Linked DNA regions of Homo sapiens: region 2 is linked to region 1. A link means that fine-mapping ties the variant in region 1 to the expression of a gene that starts in the linked region. Tissue or cell type: testis. Region 1 holds a variant in brackets; the other region holds the start of a gene. All regions are shown on one strand. Distances are from middle to middle.

What was found. PIP is the estimated chance that this variant, and not a neighbour inherited with it, causes the effect.
Region 2: LINC03066 starts here. The variant in region 1 is fine-mapped to the expression of LINC03066 in testis (GTEx, PIP 0.91).

What each region holds. Positions count from the first base shown.
Region 1 is chr6:336,792-342,678 of GRCh38, forward strand. All of the region lies in intron 4 of DUSP22 (dual specificity phosphatase 22), which reads left to right. Among named protein-coding and RNA genes, the nearest start is that of DUSP22, 47 kb to the left of the region's middle. RefSeq lists a silencer at 2,209-2,408 and an enhancer at 5,388-5,657. The variant C/A (reference allele first, on the strand shown) is at 3,132.
Region 2 is chr6:202,411-208,297 of GRCh38, forward strand. It overlaps LINC03066 (long intergenic non-protein coding RNA 3066), which reads right to left and starts at 3,074. Exons shown (of 8, transcript NR_126020.1): 1 at 2,477-3,074.

The DNA.
Region 1 (5,887 bases):
GAGAACTTCCTTGGTTACTAGTCGTGTCAAGAAACAGAAGTGGTTGGAAGGCATGGTGCACACGGAAGGAAGTGAGCCACTGCCTTTCTCTGAAGACCATAGCAATCTTCTGCCCATGTTTTGGTGGCTATTTTTAGAATGGTTGCTTTGCTCTTATCTCAAACCGAGATTCTGACATGCTGTTGAACTTGTCAGTACCTGATTGGCAATTTGATTCTTTAGAAGAAAAACTCAGATGTGACCCACTCTGGGCTCTGGACATCTGCTGTCAGTGCAGGTGGCTACCTGTCCTTGAGCTGTCCCCAGTGCTTCTCAGCTTTGCTAGGAGCTGAGTGCTCTCTTGTCTGTGACAGTGACCTGATTTAAGCGTGGAGTGACCCCTTGCACTATAGACAAGTAAGTAGTAGGCGTAGATGTTAGAAAATCTCAACTGTAAAGCCAGTTACACCTACCTTGGGCAGGTCATTTTAACCCATCTACACCTCCATTCTCCCATCTGAAAATGCCTGCCCTCAGGGTTTTTGGAGGCAAGGGCATGTATGTGAAGGTGTTTTCTGCGAACTCTGAGCACTTGTAAAACTGAGTCTGTTTTCACTCAGCGTATATTAATGTATCTTGAGAGTTACAGAAAAGGTAGTTGCAATAACAAGTTTTGGTGCCCAGGAAGCCTGCTTCAGTTACTTGAGAGACCTGCTGACATGGAGGGACAGGGGAGACAGAGATATGCCAGCTTCTTCTCTGAGTTCTAGGTCTCGTGGGTCAGTTCAGATCATCTGTCAAAACCAGCCTAATTCCAGTCACCTTTGGTGCTGAAGGACTAGCCCATACTTTTTCTTTTTAAAATACGTATAGATTTAGGGGTTGCAGGTGCAATTTTGTTACATGGATATAAGGCTTAATGGCAAAGTCTGGACTTTTAGCGCATCCGTCACCCGAATAGTGAACGTTTTACTCTTTAAGCAATTTTTCACCCCTCACCTCCTCCTACCCTTTTAATTAGTTCTCTCCTATCCCAAATATGTGAAGAGGTCCTGTTAAGTTTATGGTTTGCTTTTGTAACTCTTTCTTTGGCTGGATGACTGGCTCTTGGCCTTTGATGTATCTGGATGACAAAGAGTTACAAAGGCAAACTAGAAACGTGGGTGGGCTTAGGGGTTAGGTAGGTGTGGCAGTGCCGTGTCTGGGGCTTGTGAGTGGAGGATGCGCCGTGCTGCACTCTCCAGTGAAGCTACGACAGTAAGACTTCTGTTTCAGCTGAAAAAGGAAGTCAGGACCGTAGCTCATGAAAAGGTGGGGAAAAGTGGACACTCTGCTGTTGGGAGTCATGCTCTTGTGTGATTTTTGGGGGAAACGTTTATTTTTAACCCATTAGTAACAGCAAATCTTGTGAATAAGTAAGGCTTCGACACACATATGTCCATGACTGTAAATATTGCTTGCTGTACTAAAGTTATGTGGAAATGGTGGAGCTGACTTCGGAACTTTGAGTGACTCAGCTTGTTAAGAGGCAGGCGATGAAATAGCTTGAGTTTCTTTTTACCTGTTACAAGTGTTCTACTGGAAGGCATAGTGTACTTTTTAATGGTGAGCATATTTTCACCATGTAATCAAATGATTCCCCTCAAGTTGGCAGGCAGAACACCTACCTCTCTCGGGGTATTTATTAAGGTGTTTATTACCAAGTATCAGGTGCTGACAATCAACTTTTGCTTTCTGTATCATCAACCAATGAGGATGGTCAGACGACAAATATTCGTATTTCTCTAGTTAACAAAAGCAAAAGAAGTCTTACCTGTCACTTGGAAACTGTGTTCTGCAGGACCTAAACAATTTGAAATAGTAGCTCTTTAGCCACTTAAAAAATTCTCGGTGCTTCAGAGTTTCTCTATTCAATGATAAAATAAATTCTGGAAAACTATGTTGCTCATTGTTTTAAACTTAAGTACAGATTTTAAAAATGAATGCCAGCTTTGATGTAATTTAACACTCTATATCTTAAATTTTTCCCCACAAATCCCTGCACGAACAGGAATTCTGGCAAGTTATGCTTAGTAAGAGATGTGTGACCTTTGAGACTAGCTGTTGTCACTTGACATTCAGTTGCTGCAGACTGCCCGGAAAGGTCAGTTTTCTGTCTTGGCCTCTATCCTCTCAAATCTCCCTCTCTGATCTTCCAGGAACTTAAAATGCAGAAACCTAGTTTGAGATAACATTAACATGTTAGAATTTCAGCTCAGTTCCCCAACCAGCTAGCCTTGCCAAGTCAGGAAATGTAAAAGTTCAAGTTCTCAGAGTTGTAATAACCCCACAGACCTACTGTGGTGTGTTTTGCATGATTTTGTCATGATTAGAGGCGTCCTAGAGTTTGTATCAAATGCACACACTGCGTGTTCCCCAAGTGGCCAGCGTGGTATGGGTTAGTGAATTAAGGGCTTTGGAAATACTCACTTGCTTTTGCTTTCTCTCTGGGATTTCTTAGAAAAGTCATTTTAACCTCTCTTCTCTCATCTGTAAAATGCCTATCTCACAGGGTTTTTTATAGTATTAGGTGAGATGATATAAGTGAAAGTGTTTTTTATGAACACTAGGCATTTCTGGAAATATGATTATATTTTCTGTCTATTCAAGTAAAGAGTATTAATATGTTTTGAAAGTGAATGGTTAGATGCATATTAACTTATATTTACTCATCTTGCTTTAATATATATTACATTGGCATTTTGTACTTTGACATCATGAAGCAAGTAATTACAGATTTTTTTTTTCTTTTTCTGTGAAGTCCAAGGGCATTTGATCTCTGCCAGGCTATGGAGTCGGTATACATCATTGCAGTAGCGCCTTTGTGACATTCAGTGGTTTTAGAATCTAGCAGGTCTGTAAATTTCTTGAGGTTTTTGTGGGGAGAAGAAGCTTTAGCAATACAGAGAGCCTATATTGAAAACATCGGTAAAACGTCCTTGCCTTATTCTATCTCCCTATCTTTTTGTCTATATTTTCTTTAACTGACACCTTCTGTACTTTCAACTCTCTTTTTCTCTCATTTACGTTTTTCTTTTATTTTATTATAAAGGAGCACTTTTGCAAGATGAGAGCTAGTTGGGCCCTTGGACTACTGTGGTCCTGCTTCCAGA[C/A]AGTTCCTGAGGGCTCTGCCAGCCCATAGTGATGTTCTCCTGCTCAAGGAGAAAATGAGAGCTGAAAGTGGCATTCAGTTTTCCATAAGACTTCATTTATTCCACTTAAAAGAACTATCGTTTAGTCTTAGATTATGTCCTTCTTTTTGTTGTTGAAATATTCTTCTGGGAAATGATGTTGTAGTAAGTGGTAGAGAGGCCCTTTGTTTTAGTTTGCTTTTAAAAAGCCCTTATCTGGCCAAATGAAAAGTACAATATATGCATCCCCCAATTCTATTTTTAATGTTGACAGTGCGTGAAATATCAAAGTTGGGGAATCACTGATACAAACGTGGGCTGGTTTTGTGTGTAATGCTGTGTGCTGATAGGGCAGCTCCACCATGTCTGTCTGATGAGGAACATTCTTCCCACTTACCTCTGGGTGGACTGGGGGCTTCACCATCAGCCTTCCAGCTGGAAAGCGTGCTGGGGCAGGGCCTGTGGGTTGGGGGCCGTGGACAGATTTCTGCCCGAAGAGGAAGCAGCTCTCTGTTATGAAACCACCTTCCAGAGCCTGGACCCAGATAGAATACTCTACTCATTTGCTATTAGAAAACAAGCAAAAACTTTTTTTTCTAAGCAAAAACATACATATTTACATATGTAATGTATAAAAATATAGATTTCTTATATATAAGGATGCTTGCCTTTTTTGGATTTGTCCTTTGCTTTCATTTGCACATACACTTTTGTATCATTTGCAGGAAGGAGGAGCACCCTGTGTCCCTGTGGCCTTGCTGCTGTTATAGCGTGGTCTGGTACCATGGGCTTTTAGGGTAGGGCCAGCTGCCATTCAAGGTGCTCAGCCAGATCTCTGGGCTCCCACTCCAACAGGCAAAGTCCTTTTGAGCAGGACAGGACCATCTTAGATCCTACAGTGGGGATTGAGGCCTCCAAATCTTGCAGTCCTGGAGTGAGAAGTAGTTGTTCAGCCTCAAAAGTGAACACCATGTAGTGTGATGTACAAGCTCATCCACCATCTTTTCTTAGACTCTCTGAAGGTCGGTAGAGCCCATCTGGGCACTGGCTCTTGGCCTTTGATGCAGAAAGGAAGGGACCCAGGCAGAGGGTGCTGGTCTGTGACGAGGGAGGGAGACAGCTGCGGGTGACTGGGCAGTTTGCGAGTCCCCTCTCCCTGGAGGTGCCCCTGCTGCAAGGACCGCGGGCAGGAGCGGGCATGATAGCCCCGGGCGCTGTTTGGTGAGTTTCTAACGCAAGCGTGGTCCGGTCCGTGCTTCCTTGTGCAGCATTCGCTGGCTCTCTGTGGACTGAGCCTATTCCACACGGCTGTGCGTGGACGTAAAGGTGAACTGCCGATGAAACGGAGAGCAGGAACAGGGAACTTGTGTTCATCGAAACAGCTTGCGGTAGGATAGTGCTTCAGACTCGCACTTCTGCTTCTAACTGCAGTTGAGCAATAGAAGGACCAGGACTGTGGGTATTTCCCACTGTGGAGGAGGGAGTTTAATGACCAGAGTTGGGGCTTCTGTCATCAGCTTCCCTGGAAATAACACCCCCACACACAGTCCTGCACCAAAGTGGCAGTGCGCTCGCCTGCCTCTGGGCTTTTCTTGGAAAAGGCATTTCTAGGAATATCTCTCTGGCTTGGCCTTGTGCCGAATTGTGTCCATGAGTCAAGCTGCACTGTGGGGCTCTGAGCGGCCGCCTTGTTGGCATCCTTCCGGCTCCTGGGGTGGCGCCGCGAATGGCCCTATCATGATGCCTGCACAAGGGCTACGCAGCCCAGGCCCCCAACATGGTGGTGGATAGGAGCTATGTCCTGTGGGCTCTACTGGACTTAACTCTTACTACAGACGGAAAGAGCTACCGGGGGGTGGTGGTGCAGAGTGGGGTCACCTCTCCATAACCTCCTCAGCTCCTTCACACGCCCACTCGGCTCTCTGGGCACGGATGGGTTTGGATGGTGCCAGGCTGAGCACACTCCCCTCTTGTATTTTGAGATGTGGCAAGGCTGACTCTTGAACCCAGGTTCAACCCCACAATATGTAAGAAGCCCGGTTTCATTGTGTCTGTGGTTGGGGACGTGCAGATGTCAAAGTGAGATATAAGAAGTGGTCCCCACTCCAAGGTTTCAGTGAAGGGATTCAGTTGTCATCTTTACAAGACCTTGGTGAGGTTCGTACAACTGAATGTGACCCCAATCCTGTCCCCACTCAGATGGGCAGCTGCTAACTTTCATGTTGCTGTGTGGTCTTTGCAGTGTGTTCTGACGTGCTCTGTGGTTTTTCATTTACTCAGGCGGTCGTCATTCATTTCTAGATTTGCTTTTGCTTTTTTGGCTGCTCTGCGTACAGACACGGCTCTTTCTGACCAGAAAGAGACCCACACAGAACAGACCAGCGTGGGCACAGCAGTCAGGGACAGCGTCTTGGCACCCTTGGGGGGCCACAGCAGCGTGAGCAGCCTGGGGGACCAAGGAGGGTGCCGTCCAGCTGCACCCCTGCAGCCAGCCAGTCAGCTGCCCCAGCCTGTGCACTGGCCTGTCTACTGCAGCCTGCAAGGAGGGCAGGCACCCAGTGTAAACCACCAGGCAAGTTGCAGACCAGCAGTCTGGAGCCACTTCTGGGCCAGATGAGTTGGCTCAAGGTTTCAAACATTTTTGAACTAGTTGCTGATATCAGGTAGCATGAATTTGGCCATGAGTGGCAGAATACCGTGTTTGACTGACACATGGCATTCTAAGGGAGAGAGACACT
Region 2 (5,887 bases), 130 kb before region 1:
TGGCAACTGAACAACAACTCACAACTTTGTTACATAAAAGTCGAACCAGATTGGCCTGGTGTAGCTACCATAAGAGTAGGCAATTCAAAGAAGAATCATAAATGGCCAATAAGGATTTTAAAAAATTCTCAACCCTCCTGACGATCAGAAATATGCAAATCTGATAATAAGATACTCCCACTGATCAGATCAGCCAAAGTTAAAAGTATTCGCATTTGTGCACAACCTAGGGCACTGTGTGATCTGGGACCATTTGCATCAGAATCATCTAGTGGGCTTGTTTAAAGGCAGATTCCAATTGCCAAAACCTTGAAGGACCCAGATGTCCTTCAACTGGGTAACTGACAAACTGTGGTCCATCCATACCATGGAACACTACTCAGCACTAAAAAGGAACAAACCATTGATACAGACAATAACTCAGATGAATCTCATAGGCATTATTCTAAGTGAATGAAGCCAGGCTTGAATGTTACACACTGTATAATTCCAGACTTGAAAATAAAAAACCAATAGTGACAGAGAAAAGCCCTGTGTTTACCAAGGGAGTGAGGTGGGGTCAGGTGTGAGTAGAAATCGGTAGCTAAGGGAGCTTGTTGGGCTGGTGGAACTTTTCTGCATGCATTGTGGTGGTTACACAAATCCACTCCCTGTGCTAGAATTCATAAAACCCGCACACTCCACCACTGACCTCCACAAAGCCAAATTTACTGTGTAAAAAGTAAACAAACAAACACAACCCATATGAGTCCACCTCAGACCTAAACATCACAATCTCTAGGGAGGTGGGGCTGAGCTGATGGCTTTTCCTAACAAGCTCTCAGTGGTTCTCATGGACACTACGTTTTGAGGACCACTGGCTGGCATCACAATGGGGGTGAATGTGACTAGGAGGTTCTATCAAAACATAGAATGTGCCTACCCTCCACCCAGTGCTTGAACATCCCTTCCCCCTCATCACTCCGGGGAAGGATCCTGCTCAACACCCAACTACTCATTCAAACCTGGAACCCGAAACTTTAATGAAGGTTGCTCTACTGAGATTTTTCTCCCCACCGAACATGTCTGTGACCCACAAAGAAGCCCATGAAAGAAAGTGCCCAGAGAAACCAGAGCTGTGGAAGGCTGGCTCGACGGTGCCCCTCACTGCCCCTGAGAAAACAGACCCATTTCCTCTCTGCCCACCTCTTTCCCTGACATGTCCCCAGCAGCAGTCCTGTATTCCCAGTTCCTCTCAAGATGTTCTGAATAGTCTCTGGGTATCCTCTCATTGCCTTCAACTCAAGATATCTAAAACCAAAACTCATTGTCTTCCCACTCAAAACGTCCTCCCCTTTCTGCTGCCAACCCCAGTCAGTATTGTCTGCAGGCTTCCAGGCTTGGATCCTTGACTCACGGCCACCCAAGCTTCCTTCCCCCGTGTGCGATTAGTCAGTAAGTCTTAGTAGTGATGAGGGCTTCCTGCACCGTGACTGTCCGGCATGCTTTTTCCTCTCCCATTTCCTCAGCCACCAGCAATTCCAGGCCCCTCTTTACTTCGTATGTATTCTAGCGAGATCAACTGGCAAGACAAAGCTCAGACGTCACCTCCAGAAGGTTTTCATGGCTTGTGATAATCTGGCTTCACCTGTATTCTACTTCATGAGACAACTGACTATCTCGTGGCCTCTTCCCTGTGGCCTCCATCTCTCTTTGCAGCTCCAGTCCCTGGCACATGCTTGGCACACAGCTCACTGCAGCTGCTCAATGAGTTTTGTGGACTGGATGTTTGCTTGTGGGAAGTGGAAGCAGGGACCAGATGGATGGGCAGAAGGATTGTCCTATTCAAATATGCACTGGTGGTCCTGTCTTGTGTTTGGGCACCAGTTGAATCCAAGAGCTCTCAACCTGTGGAGTGTCGGATGAAATCTATGGAATCCCTCCTCAGAAAAGCAAATGAACCCACACAATGATGGCGCAGTTTCATTGTCATCAGCCTCCTGAGGCGTATCCACAATCACCAGGTCAGAAAACCCTGCTCCTTCCTTGCATTCAATTGGGCACATCACTATCAAATTAATTTTTCTGAAACACGACAAAATCTCATCAGAAATATACCACACTTTGTTGTCCCAAATGCTTGCCACCAGAAGTGTTTTGTATTTCAGATTTTTTGGATTTTGGAATCTTTGCATTATACTTACCAGTTTGGCATCCCTAATCCAAAACTCTGAAGTCAGATTAGCGATATTAAACCTGTACTAAGGAGAGCAATTCTGAATTTTTTGGCTTGGCAGCCACGGTTATTTTTGTGCCCCTCTAAATATACCTACTACCTACTATCCCCAGTGTGTAATCAGGCCATTGATGCCAGAGAGAGGTGTGAGTAGAATGATCACCAGTAGTGCCTGCCCTGAGAACGTGGCCACTGGTGCCCAGAGCAGAGTTGTCTGGGGACTGGCTGGAGGCCCATAGAGAGGCCCACACAAGAGCTCACCTGTGTTGACCAGCTCTCTTGCGTGCTCCAATTCCTATGCTGTTGCCTTGACTCAGCATGTGGTTCTCAGTGGGGTGATTCTTCCCTGCAGGTGACAAGTACTAATGTCTGCACACATTTACAACTAGGGAGGGAGTGCCACTGGCATTGAGTGGGTGGAGGCCAGGGATGCTGCTGAGCTTCCTGCATTGTACAGGACAGCCCCCACCACAAAGAACTTTCTGGCCCCAAGTGTGCATAGAAAAGATCCTGGTCTGCAGAGCCCTGTCCACCCATGGTCAATCCTGAAACTCTCCTTTGAGTCCCCCAGACTTTCCTGGGCCCTCCGGTCTTGCAGGATCTTCTCTTTCTTTCACACCTGTCCTTCCTGGGCAACATTTCTCCCCGACAAACCAGCGCCTGACCCTTGAGCAGGTCTCACCCAATCCTGCGCTTGTTTTAACCATATCCTTAGTTAGGTTCTAAGGTCATTGCGGGCAGGGAGGTTCATTTTCCTATAGGCCTGAGCACAAGGTCAGCGTGTGATAAATATGTGTTGACCCTCATAGATCCCTGAAGCACAGAATGAAAAATAAAATTGCTTAAATTTACTGATTTCAGGATATGGGAACAAAGGAATTGTGTTTAAATGTAAAAAAGAAGTTCTAGAATTTCCACAGAATTTACATTCTTCTTGTTGTAAGGAATATGCCTGGTAATGGAACTCAAATATCAGCTTGGATCGCCCTGGCCTTTGAAATTTGAGGTAAAATTAGGCTTAAGCCGTATCCAGCGCACAACAGAAACCTCAGTGTCTCCCACCCAGGGACTGTCTCGGAGGCTGTGTGTTCAGATGTCACTTCTGCCTCCCGGCATCTGCTCCTGAGTTTTCACTCTTCAGCCTCCCCTCCCAAGGCCTCCTTCCTACCCTGGCACTGGGCTTCTTGCCCCGTCCCCCTAGAATCCGTGGCACAGGGGCTTTATCTGTGTGGAGTCTCTACAGACGGTTAGAAACACAGAGTCAGCTAGAAATTAAGCAGTAGGCAGCTGTGATGTTTTTTGACAGCCTCATTTCTAAAACCCCTTCAGCAACCCCAGTCAAGGAGCTTCTCCCTCTAGACTCCAGCCTCCTGCTGAGTCACCTGCACCGTCTCTGCCTTCCTCCCCTTCCTCACATCCTCCCTGGCCCCATCTTCCAATTCCTCTGAACTTCTGCAGAGCAGCCAGCTCTTCCTCCAGCTTCAACTTCCCCACCCCAAGCAGGTGGGGCATCCTGACCCTGAGCAAAAGCAGTTCTCTCCCTAAGAAACACCGGTGACTTTTGTTCATGGCACTCCATGGATGCAAAGCTCTGAGTTCTGTTGAACAGGGACTCACCTACGAGTGGTGGTGCTATCAGCTGAGACGGGAAGCAGCACTCAGTAGAAGAAGAAAAGGCCTGGACTGGTGTGGGCATGCACTGGCTCGTGAGAAGCAGGGAAGGTCGCTCTTATGGGTCCCGTTTCTAAGTGACGTTCACGGCCTGGCTGTGTGTTGTCCAAGTGTTTTTCTTTCTTACCAAACCTTGGAGGTCTGGGAGCACCATATATGTCACACATGTGGGCAGGACTGGCCGTCGGGGCCGATGGGAGCTGCCTGGCGCACAAGTCCCTGGGGATGCCCATAAGTGCCTCACGTTGGCACTGAAGAAATGCAGACAGTGTGCCGCTTTGGGGAAGGCTTGTTGTTGCTGACTTTACACACACACACATATATATATACATACACACACACATATATACACATATATATGTATGTATACAGAGTGCTATAAAGTTATTCTTATTTTGTGAGTGATACAACCTTATTATTTAAAAATTAGGAAGAAAGTTAAAAAGAGGGTAAAACTCATATCTCTTCATGAGAAATGATCACTGTGACTATTTCAGCATACTTCCTCTGGCTCTGAGAAGAATCTTTAGGAAATAAGGAGCTTTTCATCTCCAGGGAGATGCCAGGGTCAGTTTCACCCCAAGGCAAAACCCTTCTCATTTTATGGGGCCAGATGCTGAAGATCAGAAACAGTTCGATCCTGCCCCGAGAAGGTGTCCGCCTCATCCTTGGAGTTAATGTGGCCACTTCCTAGGCAACTCAGAGGCTTTATGGGTCCTTTCGCCTCTTAAAATTAATTGAGTTATTCAGTAAATACAGGTTAAGCATCCCTAATCCAAAAATACAAAATGCTCCAAAACTGTTTTAGTACCAAAACGACCCTTAAAGAAGGCACTCACTGGAGCGTTTTGGATGTTGGATATCAGATTAGGGATGCTCAGCCAGAATGAATTCTGCAAATATTCCAAAATCAAAAAAAATTTGAAATCTGAAACACTTCTGGTTCCAAGTATTTCAAATAAGGGACACTCAACCTGCACTTAGTGAGTGATGCCAGGGAGTGGTACCAGTCACTGTTCTAGGCACTGAGGGTGCGTTGGAGACAAAGTGACAGCAACGTCCATGCTTCTTCCTCGCAGAGGACAGAGCCATGAGGAGGGAGAGTCTCTTCACTTCTCTGGGCCTTAGTTTCCTCCCCAGGCAAATAAACTGAGGAGGCTGTACCCAAATAAACATCGTCAGAGCTTAGGGGAATCATGTGGAGTGCCTGTTTGTCTTAAACACAAGCATTTCTTTAAGGTTCCTTAAAAAAAAAAAAGAAAAGAAAAGCTAAAAATGTTAATGACCTCTGCATTTTATTTTCTGGTATGTCCAGGTTTTTTGTTTTTGTTTTTAGACAGAGTTTTGTTCTGTCGCTCAGGCTGGACAGATCACGCAGTGGCATGATTTTGGCTCACTGCAACCTCCACCTCCCGGATTAAGTGATTCTCCTGCCTCAGCCTCCTGAGTACCTGAGATTACAGGCACCCACCATCACAGTCAGCTAATTTTTGTATTTTCAGTAGAGATGGGGTTTCACCATGTTGCCCAGGCTGGTCTTGAACTCCTGACCTCAAATGATCTACCCGCCTCAGCATCCCAAAGTGCTGGGATTACAGGCATGAGCCACTGCTCCTGGCCATATGTCCAGGTATTTTTAAATATAAAAACAAAATTTGGCCAGGTGCAGTGGCTCATGCTTGTAATCTCAGCACTTTGTGAGGCTAAGGTAGGCAGATCACCTGAGGCCAGGAGTTCGAGACCAGCCTGGGCAACATGGTGAAACCCCGTCTCTACTGAAAATACAAAAATTAGCCAGGCCTGATGGCCCATGCTTTTAATCCCAGCTACTCGGGAGGCTGAGGCAGGAGAATCACTTGAACCCAGTAGGCGGAGGTTGCAGTGAGCCGAGATCACACCACTGCACTCCAGCCTGGGCAACAGAACAAGACTTCATCTCAAAAAACAAACAAACAAACAAACAAAATAAACCCCACAAAATTTAAAATTCTTTGTAGAGTA